Linked DNA regions of Homo sapiens: region 2 is linked to region 1. Evidence: fine-mapped expression QTL. A gene starts in region 1. The other region holds a variant in brackets. All regions are shown on one strand. Distances are between the middles of the regions. Region 1 holds the start of ERLIN1 (ER lipid raft associated 1). Region 2 overlaps COX15 (cytochrome c oxidase assembly factor COX15).

Region 1 (5,382 bases):
AAAAAGGCTGCTCACAAGTTCTATTTCTTGAAGAATAAATTCTACCTCCTTGTGTTGCACTGAACAGGTTCTCTTCCTGGCATCATAAGGAGTTGGTGTAATCATTTTAAATTCCACTGAAAATTTAACAGTATCCCCTTCTCATCGAAGGGATTGTGTATCTGTGCTTCTAATATTAGTTGGCTTTCATAAATCATGTTGTTGTGTGTATATGTATTTAAGATGTACATTTAATAATATCAAAGAGAAGATGCCTGTTAATTTATAATGTATTTGAAAATTACATGTTTTTTCATTTGTAAAAATGAGTCATTTGTTTAAACAATCTTTCATGTCTTGTCATACAAATTTATAAAGGTCTGCACTCCTTTATCTGTAATTGTAATTCCAAAATCCAAAAAGCTCTGAAAACAAGGTTTCCATAAGCTTGGTGACAAAATTCATTTGCTTGCAATCTAATCTGAACTGACCTTGAATCTTTTTATCCCATTTAGTGTGAATATTCCTTTATTTTGCTGCTTGATGATGAGAGGGAGGGCTGCTGCCACAGACTGTGGTGAGGGCTGGTTAATGTAGTATGGTATATGCACAAAACTACTTTTCTAAAATCTAAAATTTCATAATTCTGAAACAACTTGCCCCAAGGGTTTCAGAGAAAGGACTGTGGACCTCTATCATCTGCTAAGTAATTTAGAAGATATTATTTGTCTTAAAAAATGTGAAATGCTTTTATATTCTAATAGTTTTTCACTTTGTGTATTAAATGGTTTTTAAATTACTTTCTTGATCTCTATTCATTATAAAAATCAGATTATAATAAAACAGTTGAATATGGCTTAGGAAAATATGAAGGTTCCATGAAGTGGAATTAAGAGCATAGAATAACTGTACTTTCCTTAGGAATAATAGGACTTATGGTAAAGGTAGTATTGGGCAACTTCTTTAAGAGTGTTTTCCTCTGAGATGTCCTATCACCACTATCTACATCTAAAAAACATGCTCGATTCTTGCCCTATAAACTGATGTCACAGCCCCACCATCCCCATTTTTGCTAGTGGTATCATTTTCCTAGTCAACCAAATTTTTTAGTCATCACATATCACTGTTCGTCATCTATTATAATAGGCAGTCTCTCTCTTGTTTCCCTGGTTTTAGAAGATTTTAGTAATAAACATTTATTGGGTACCTGTTACTTGGAGGGTATTAAGCTAGATGGCAAGATCTGAAACAACATAGGCAGTATAGTAAAAGTGCTTATCTGGGAGTCTGAACATTACAAGCCATCCAAGCATTGCAATTATTGTTAAGGATTATTTTCAATGGTCATGCATTTTCTAATATTTTAATAATTGGTTAAAGATTTGTTATAGCGTGGGGGCCGCTGCTGGTGTGTGGCTGGGGTTATGTCAGGGCAGCCTGATCTATATAATTTGGGCAGATGGTGTGAGTCAGAACAGACTATTATAGTGGGATCCCCAAACTTGCTTTTGATGCATGAGTTGGACCACTATTTTTTGGTGGGTAACAACTTTTCAGAGGGGAATGGCAGTTGTGAATTGTATACATTTCATTCTTTAAGCAATATTATGAAAAACTTCAGAGAATGTCTACAGAAAACAGGGTATGGAGCAAGTTATTTTCCATTCTTTTTGCTTTTTGGAAGTTAAAATAGCTAAGCTCTGCAAATATCATTTATTTGGAACAGATAAGGTCCCAGACATTCCTAGATAATAAAAATCAAATGAATGATACAGGTAAGTGTATTTATTGAAGGGTGTGGGTAGAGTGGTCTGGGAAGTCTTGCTTTAATGAAGACGGATTGATTCTATTTACCTCTTCTTACTTCCACTACTAAGTAACCCTGGGCCTGCAGTTTCCTAACCACTTGACTTCCTTGCCAACAGTCTGTCTCCACTTTCAGCCGTTTTATAGATTCATTGGCCCTAAAGCACTGCTTTCCCATACTTCCCTACCCAAGAGGGCAGGGGTCCCCAAGCCCTGGGCCGCGGACCGGAACCAGACAGTGGCCTGTTAGGAACCAAGCCGGATAGCAGGAGGTGAGCGGCGGGCGAGTGAGCATTATCGCCTTGAGCTCTGCCTGCTGTCAGATTAGCGAGTGGCATCAGATTCTCATAGGCACGCGAACCCTATTGTGAACTGCACATGTGAGGTTTGCCGGCTCCCTGTGAGAATCTAATGCCTGATGATCTGAAGTGGAACAGTTTCATCCCCAACCCACACACACCCCCACCCCGTCCGCTGGGTTAGAGGACTTTACAACCCTAGTCCACCTTGTCCAGTTATAGTTCCACCTCTAGCCTTTCAAGGCTTAAACCATTAATGTCCTTAATTTCTCTTGTATTCATCTATCTCCCAACTATACCTTTTTCCTTCCCTTTTTTATTTTTGGCAATATGTGCCCATGGTTTTTTAATTTAAAACGAACAGAATATGTAGTGACGCCTACCATAGCACTCCTTCCCATCACACAAGCCTTCAAGGAAACTGAAGTACTTACTTTGGTCTCCCTGGAGGATTCCCTCCGCCTCCCGCCCCATGTGCTTAGCAATTCTGTTCCTGTAGTCTGGATGGCCTTCATAAAGCCCTCACTGGACCAGCATTCTGGCACATAATAGGAACACTTAAAAAACGAGAGAATGATGCCGTTATATCTAATATCTTCCTCTTCTGAACTTTCACAGCACTTTATTTGCAACAAGTTTAGTTGCTCCTGAAGGGCAGGATCTCTGCCGGAAGCAAGTGCGTGCCACACAGTGGGGCTCCGCATACACTGCAAAAGGACAAATAAACCGAACAGCTACCGTTTGAGAGTGAGCGAGTGGGTTCTCTGCACAAGAACAAACCAACCAGTCCCTTGTCCGAAAGGGCGTCTCCTTTTCTCTGCTTCGCTGCTCACTCCAGACTGCGGGCTGTCCTCTTCCGAAGCAGTTAACCAGCAGTGTACAGAAAGCGACTTGCCTCCAAAGGAGCCTGCGCGGCCCGCGGCTAGGAGAATTTTGTCCCATGCGCTCCCCGTCTCACTAGCCGCGGGCCGGGGCTACGCCGTGTGCGTCCCCGCGCAGCCGCAGTGCTGGGCGAGTGGGCGGGGCCGGCTGTTGGCGGCGGTTGGCTCGGCGCGGGAGTCGGCTGCACGTGCGGGCGGGGGCGATGCGTCACTGATCGGTGAGGCGCGGCCGAGGGGTCGGCTTTCCTCGCGAGCCTGCGGCTGGGCTTCTTCTCAGTTAGTGCCTTCCACCCGGGAGCGACCCTTGGGAGAGGGAGTTTCAGGAAGCTCACCGAGCAGGGGCGGCCCACTGGCCTCCGGGGGCGGAGGAGTTGGCAAGGGGTCAGCGGGCTCAGCCAGAAGGGAAGAATGAGGGGACAGGGGTACTGGACTCCCCGGCTCAGCCTGCGAGAGAGCGCCAAGTTTCCGGAGGGAGAGGGTAGAAACTGGAGGGGGTGGACCTGTCACTCACGGGACTGAGGGTCCTTTTCTCCCGCTCCCAGGAGGAACGAGAATGAATATGACTCAAGCCCGGGTTCTGGTGGCTGCAGTGGTGGGGTTGGTGGCTGTCCTGCTCTACGCCTCCATCCACAAGATTGAGGAGGGCCATCTGGCTGTGTACTACAGGTGAGCGGCATGTGCAGTCAGTTAGGGCTCTAGAGCAGATTAAAAGGGTACTCCAGAGTGGAGTCTGGGAAGTTGTTCCCTCTGCAACGTTCGGGGGCGCATGTCCCATCTCTAGGGAGAGCACGGGGGTCGAAGCGGGCTTTTGCGGAGCACCCTCCAGATGTTGGACAGTTTTAGTGCTATGTTCGTTTTGTTGCAGAGATTAAGTCTCCCTACGGTTATTCCTATACACAGCAAACTCAATTATTTGTAGAAAAATGAAGAAGGAAGAAAGGAAGTAGTCACTCTACCTCTAACTGAAGAGATGGATAAATTATAGTTCGTTCAACTGTACAGGCTTTAGTTTGCCGCTGTAGATGCTGTATGTTTATGGTTGTTTCTTAGACTTTTTCATTTAAAAGCTTCCAGTGTCTGGTTACGTCTTGTAACACCATGATGACTGTGATGGTGCTTATGTCCCTGGACCTCCAGGGACATAAGCACAACACTGATGGGCCATGCTCCTCCCTCCTTACTGTTGCTGTTCAAGTTGGGGACAGGAGTGGTGTGGGAGCTGTTGCTCTCTTGTTGAGCTCGCTTAGCTTTTCCTTCAGCCTAATTACCACAAGTTCCTTTTGATACAGACTAGTAAGAGAGGCCAGTTTGTGGAGAAATTGGGATAATGGTGTATTCAAAAAGAGCGTCAACTTTTTGCTTGTTTCCACTATCCCTCAAAACTGATATTTCTACTTTCAAATCCATCCTGAATCCTAGAAAAAGAGCAATTTTAATGGTATATCTTAGCAGATGGAGCTCTACATAAGAAATTACAGATTAGTCCAGATTTCCTTCCAGTTTAAAAGCATTGTCTTTCTGACAGTAAAACCAGAGAAAGGACATTTCAAGGAATGACTCAAAGAATTAGTAATGAACCTCAAACAGTTCATCTTTCCTTGTTATTATGACCTTGCAAATGTGTTTATATTTTCAAGACCGGTAGCTAAGTTCTATGAATTTACAAGGTGCAAAATAGGACTTTGTTTTCTTTGCTCCCCAAATGCCTCCTTTTTATAATTTCCAGGGCTTGCTTTCATAGTTTTCACATTCCAGGATTTGGTTAACAAGCCCTTATGCTATTTATTTGTATAGTCTTGTCACCCTTCATCTTTTCATGCTAATTTTTTGTTTTTATATAGAAATTTTATGTTCCCAGTATTTTAATTACCTTGTAGATAGATCGAAAGAATTATAAGCCTCAGAAATTTTCTCTTTACTTCAAAGTTTGCATTGTCTTTTTTTCAACCTGGTGATTAAATGTATTATATATTTTGATTTGGCTCTTGTTATGTACTATTAATGTACCTCTACTGAAAGCCATTAGAATTTTTTAAACAAATATTTCTCAGAAGGTTAAAGACCGAGGAGAATCCTTTGAACCTTAGAGCAGTGCTGGAGACCCAGAGGTACGGTTGGTTGAGCTTATGAAACAAGGTGTAACATTGGCAGTTTAATTTGATCTTTTTCCCTTTTTAGGTGTGGAGGTATTTTAAGCAGTTGTTCATTATGAGCAATTCATATTAGTGAGGCTTTAGTAGGTCAGCAGCATGAGCAAGAGTGAGTATTTATTATAGCATTTTAGATTTGGAAAGATAATTTTTCTTTTTATAATTTTGTCAAATTGAAACATCTTTTTGCAGGGGAGGAGCTTTACTAACTAGCCCCAGTGGACCAGGCTATCATATCATGTTGCCTTTCATTACTACGTTCAGATC
Region 2 (5,382 bases), 470 kb after region 1:
GACAGATAACGCACAATAGAAACATAATGTGCTAGATGATATTTAGTGCCATGAAGAAAAATAAATTAGGGTCAGGAGACAGAAAGTGGGCTAGGATCATCAAGCGAAATCTCTTTGGTAAGGTGACATCTGAGTGGAAGCTGAGGAAATAAGGGAGTCAGTCATGCAGACATCTGTGGGAGAGCATTTCTAAAATAAATCAGTAGCACTCAGTGGCGGGGTGAGGAGGGCATCAAAATCACTAAGGGAATTTTTCTAAGCTAATAAGCCTCTCCCCCTCCCCCCACACCACAGCCTCTACTCCACTTCTCTAGAGGAAGCAGAATCTTGGGGTGGGAGCAGGTAAGGATGCAGAGATTTGAAGTTTCCTTGGTGATTGTGATGTATCTTCTCTGTTGGAGAACTCCTGTTGCAGATATGTCTATTATTCTCTGACTGTTCCCTTAGTTTAACTCTGGGATAACAGACTTTTTCTATATCAGAACTAGTATTTGGTCTCTTCTTCCTCTCATTTTAATAAATACCATTTACCTTGGAATACAGGGGCTTTTGTGGCAGGGCTAGATGCTGGGCTTGTTTATAACTCCTTTCCCAAAATGGGAGAATCCTGGATCCCGGAGGACCTCTTTACCTTCTCCCCCATCCTGAGGAATGTTTTTGAGAATCCCACCATGGTGCAGTTTGATCACCGGATTCTGGTAAGTGTAGTTGGTGGTTACCTGCCAGAGAGCACAGGAGCCTATCATAGGCTTTGGGGTGTCAGTGAAGCACTGATGGCAACACTGAGAGGGTAGAGCAGGAACTATATTTCCTGCTCTCTTTGGAAGAAATTTTAGGACCATTTCTCTAATCTAATGTCTTTGTCCTCATTATTCACCCCTGTCCCCCTACCCCAACCCCAGCCAAATTCTAGCTTTCAGGACGTTGCCAGCTTCTTAAAAGTTCAAATGTGCCTTTTACCACTTGGCAAGTGATAACCTCCCTCAATTCTGCACGTACCTAGAAAGTCATTTCAGCAGAAATGTGGTTGAGTAGAGAAGCGAATGCGGAGACCATAGCTGCTAAGCACGTAGCTCTCGGAGCTAAACCAGAAGCTCAAGGAGCCAGGAGCTTCACCAGTACTTTTCATTCTATTTAAGCGAATATGTTTTGAGGGTCTGCTATGGGCCATTCAAAGATTGGCTTGGAGGCCTGTGTGTGATGAATTGGAGCGGGGAAAGATGAGCAGTAAGGAGACTGTGAGAAGCATAGTGCTGCTGCGTAATGCCAGGGAGAGTGATGGAGATGGGGCCTACATGGTGGGAGTGGGACTTGAGAAGAATGATGCATTTGAGAGAGAATTTAAAGGAATAGAGAGGCTGGGCATGGTGGCTCACACCTATAATCCTAGCACTTTGGGAGGCTGAGGCGAGAGGATTGTTTGAGCAGGAGTTTGAGGCTGCAGTAAGCTGTGATCACGTTACTGCATTCTAGCCTGGGAGACAGAGTGAGAGCCTGTCTCTTAAAAAATTAAATTTAATTTAAAAATAAGAGCACTGGGCGCAATGGCTCATGCCTGTAATCCCAGCACTTTGGGAGGCTAAGGCAAGAGGATCGCTTGAGCCCAAGAGTTCAAGACCAGCCTGGGCAACACAGGGAGACCTCATCTCTACGATAAATAAATAAATAAAGGAAAAGAGTTAATAAGATTGGCTGTCAGGAATAAAGGTGAAGAAAGATCAAGTGAAATCCCAAAGTTTCTTCTACAGCATGCTTGAAACATGACCTACAGGGATGGGACCCTCAGAATGAGTGTGGAGCTAGAGGTGGGAGGATGTCATCAGATGGAGGTATGTTGAGTGTGAGATGAGAGCAGCACGTCCAGAGAGAGGGGGCCAGAGGGCTCAGCTGTCCAACGGGGGCTGGGCTGAGGCATGTTACCTGGTGTGGGCTGAGTCCCCACCTGCGCACAGTATTTTAGCATAAGTAAAGCCTGGTTGAAATTGTCATTGTGGACAGCACTGAAAAGGAAATGAAGTGAAATAAATGTAGAAATATGATAGAAAACATTCTCCCTGATACCGTGGAAGAGGAAGGAGACCATTATTGCCAGTCCTGGACCCTTGTTCTGAAGAGATAGGAATGAAAATGAGACTTTAGGTCTTTTTTAGCACCAGCTGGCAGCACCAGCACTTTCTCCACTCACAGCCCAGGAAAATAATAACCCTCATGTGCTGGGGTCAGCCCTGCTTTAAGAATATAGGATTAGAGATATGGTTAGGGATAAGGATGCAAAGAATTAAAAATGAGGGGGACACCCACATTGGAAGGTGGATGAGATCACTGGGAGTGAGGGTGTATAAAGTACATACAGAATCTTAGGTGGAGCCTGGGTGATACCGACGTTTAAGTGGCAAGCAGAAGAGGATGGTGGAAGAGACAGCCTGTGGAGGAGTGATCAGGCTGGGACTGCAGGGAGGTTCTCTGTGACTGGTACAGGAAAGTACTTCATGGTTGCTGAGTGGTTCTAGAGGAGATACATGTAAGGTGAGTTAGAAACCTGGCACTTCTATCTAATGTGATAGACTCTTTCTTCCCTGCAGGGAATCACTTCAGTCACTGCCATTACAGTGCTCTACTTCCTCTCTCGGAGAATTCCCCTTCCTAGAAGGACCAAGATGGCAGCAGTGACTCTGCTGGCTTTGGCGTATACACAGGTATAAACCACTTCTTTTTGTTCTGACAGTATCCCCAATACAAAGTTAAAAAAGGGGCCGGGCACAGTGGCTCATGGCTGTAATCCCAGCACTTTGGGAGGCCTAGGTGGGCAGATCACTTGAGCCAGGAATTCAAGACTAGCCTGGGCAACATGGCAAAACCCCATCTCTACAAAAAAAATACAAAAATTAGATGGGCATGTTGGTGTGTGCCTGTAGTCCAAACTACTTGGGAGGCTGAGATGGGAGGATCACCTGAGCCAGGGAGGTTGAGGCTGCAGTGAGTCAAGATCGCACCGCTGCACCCCAGCCTAGACAACAGAGTGAGACCCTGTCTGTTTAAAAAAAAAAAAAAAAAAAAGGAAAGGTGACAGACTAGGAGAAAATATTTTCCATATTTATAATAAATTAAAAGATTAATAACCGGAAAATAAGTAAAGGACATCAATACACAATTACCACAAAAACAATGATTAATGGCCAGTAAACATGAAAAGCTGTTCAGCTTCACTTATAATCAGAGAGGAGCAAATTTAAAAAATAAGTACCATTTTGTGCCTATCAAATTGGAAAAAAGTGAAAA[AAAAG/G]ATAATCAGGTATTGCCATGGGCATAGGAAAATGGATACTTTCAAATATTCCTGGTGAGAGCATGAGTCAGTACAGTTTTTTCCAGAAGGCAATTTGGCAATATCTTTTTTTTTTTTTTTTAGAGATGGAGTCTCACTCTGTCACCCAGGCTGGCAATATCTTTTAAAAGTTAAATGGGTAATTCTTTGGCCCAGCAAATGAACTTATTAGTGTCAGTCCTAGAAACAGTCCAATGCAACAAAGACCTTTTGTATGAGAAAATTCATCATAGAATTGTGATAGTGAAAAATTGGAAACAACCTAAATAGTTAAAAAACTATGGGCCGGGCACAGTGGCTCACGCCTGTAATCCCAGCACTTTGGGAGGCCGAGGTGGGCGGATTACCTGAGGTCAGGAGTTCAAGACCAGCCTGGCCAACATGATGAAACTCTGTCTCTACTAAAAAATACAAAAATTAGCCAGGCGGGGTGGCACACGCCTGTAATCCCAGCTACTTGGGAGGCTGAGGCAGGAGAATTGCTTGAGCCCTGGAAGTGGAGGTTGCAGTGAGCCAAGATCATGCCATTGCACTCCAGCCTGGCAGACAGAGTGAAACTCTGTCTCAAAACAAAACAAAACAAAAAAAACTATGGTATATCCATACTGTGCGATACTGCACAGCAGTTTAATAAGATCTCAATACATAGTGTATATTGCTAAGTGAAAAAAAGCAAGTGACAGAACAATATGTTTTTTAAAAGCACAAAACTATATATTTATTTCTCTATAAACATACTAAAGTACAAGTATGCAGAAACTGGTAACAGTGACTACTCTGGGGAACTGGGATGGATTGAAGAATAAGGGGAATTTTAGGTTTATCAATTTTGTTCGAATTTCTTTCATTGTAAGCATATTTGCTTGTGAAATTAAAAATGTGTGTATTTTAAGTGCTCTGATAGGAGGATGTGGAGGTTTGTGTGTGGTTATCCACGCCTGGCCATTTTCAATGTGAACTTTGGGTTACTGCCTTTCCTATTGCCTTCTTTCCTTTGTGACAGGTGGGCTTGGGCATCAGCACGCTGCTGATGTATGTCCCAACTCCTCTGGCCGCCACTCACCAGTCAGGCTCCTTGGCTTTGCTCACTGGTGCTCTTTGGCTGATGAATGAACTCCGAAGAGTCCCAAAATGATTCTTAGAGGACCAGCCTCCTGGGACTGTGACTGCTTTTGAGAGCTCTTCAGAGATCATAAGAACTTGGGCTTTTCTACGAGATGACCTTGACATACCAAGTGGTTTCCAAATGGTCAACTTACTTAAAAATCTTTTCCTGTTTTGAGATAGTCACTGGATCAAGAATGCATTAAGTGTGGTTACCCTAAATGTTCCCTTTTAAATCTGCTTTTCATGTTGAAAATCAGTTTTAATGTAGAGAAAGAAATGTCTGCCATTTGCTGCTTAACAGGCTTTGTGTCAGGTTTTTCAGTGTTGGCAAGCTCTTGGTTCTACGTGGATGATTTCTACGTGGATGTTCTCCTGAGTCCTTAATTCTGCCTAAATAGAATTTCTTTATGATCTTAACTTCACTTCCATTAGGTGAAGATTGAAAGGATAGGATTGACATACCCAAAGTAGCCAGCTGGTCTTCAGCAAAAAAAAAAAAGCTAATGTCTTCTAATATCCTGATTTTCAGAAATGGGGAAATTGCAGATTTTGACAAGCTTAATGTGTATATGTAGCAAAATGGTTTTTAAGTACTTGGAAAAGGAGGTAATCGCCAAATAGTTCCATTTTTTTTTTTTTTTTTGAGACAGAGTTTCACTCTTGTTGCCCAGGCTGGAGTACAATGGCGTGATCTCAGCTCACTCTGCAACCTCCACTTCCCAGGTTCAAGCGATTCTCATGCCTCAGCCTCCCGAGTAGCTGGGACTACAGGCACAAGTCACCATGCCTGGCTAATTTTGTATTTTTAGTAGAGAAGGGGTTTCACCACATTGGCCGGGCTGGTCTTGAACTCCTGACCTCAGGTAATCCGCCCATCTCGGCTTCCCAAAGTGCTGAGATTACAGGCATGGGCCACCACGCCCAGCTAGTTCCTCTTTTGATAAGGCTGTTAA

Evidence for each region. PIP is the estimated chance that this variant, and not a neighbour inherited with it, causes the effect.
Region 2: its variant is the best candidate, but not a certain one, in a credible set for the expression of ERLIN1 in whole blood (TOPMed, PIP 0.50).

The regions. Positions count from the first base shown.
Region 1 is chr10:100,183,763-100,189,144 of GRCh38, reverse strand. ERLIN1 (ER lipid raft associated 1) reads left to right here and starts at 3,116. Exons shown (of 11, transcript NM_006459.4): 1 at 3,116-3,631; 2 at 5,308-5,382. The coding sequence starts at 3,519. CHUK (component of inhibitor of nuclear factor kappa B kinase complex) reads left to right here. Exons shown (of 21, transcript NM_001278.5): 21 at 1-845. RefSeq lists an enhancer at 2,749-2,898 and a silencer at 3,069-3,218.
Region 2 is chr10:99,713,662-99,719,043 of GRCh38, reverse strand. It overlaps COX15 (cytochrome c oxidase assembly factor COX15), which reads left to right. Exons shown (of 9, transcript NM_078470.6): 7 at 544-698; 8 at 2,583-2,696; 9 at 4,326-5,382. The coding sequence ends at 4,457. Among named protein-coding and RNA genes, the nearest start is that of COX15, 16 kb to the left of the region's middle. The variant AAAAG/G (reference allele first, on the strand shown) is at 3,280.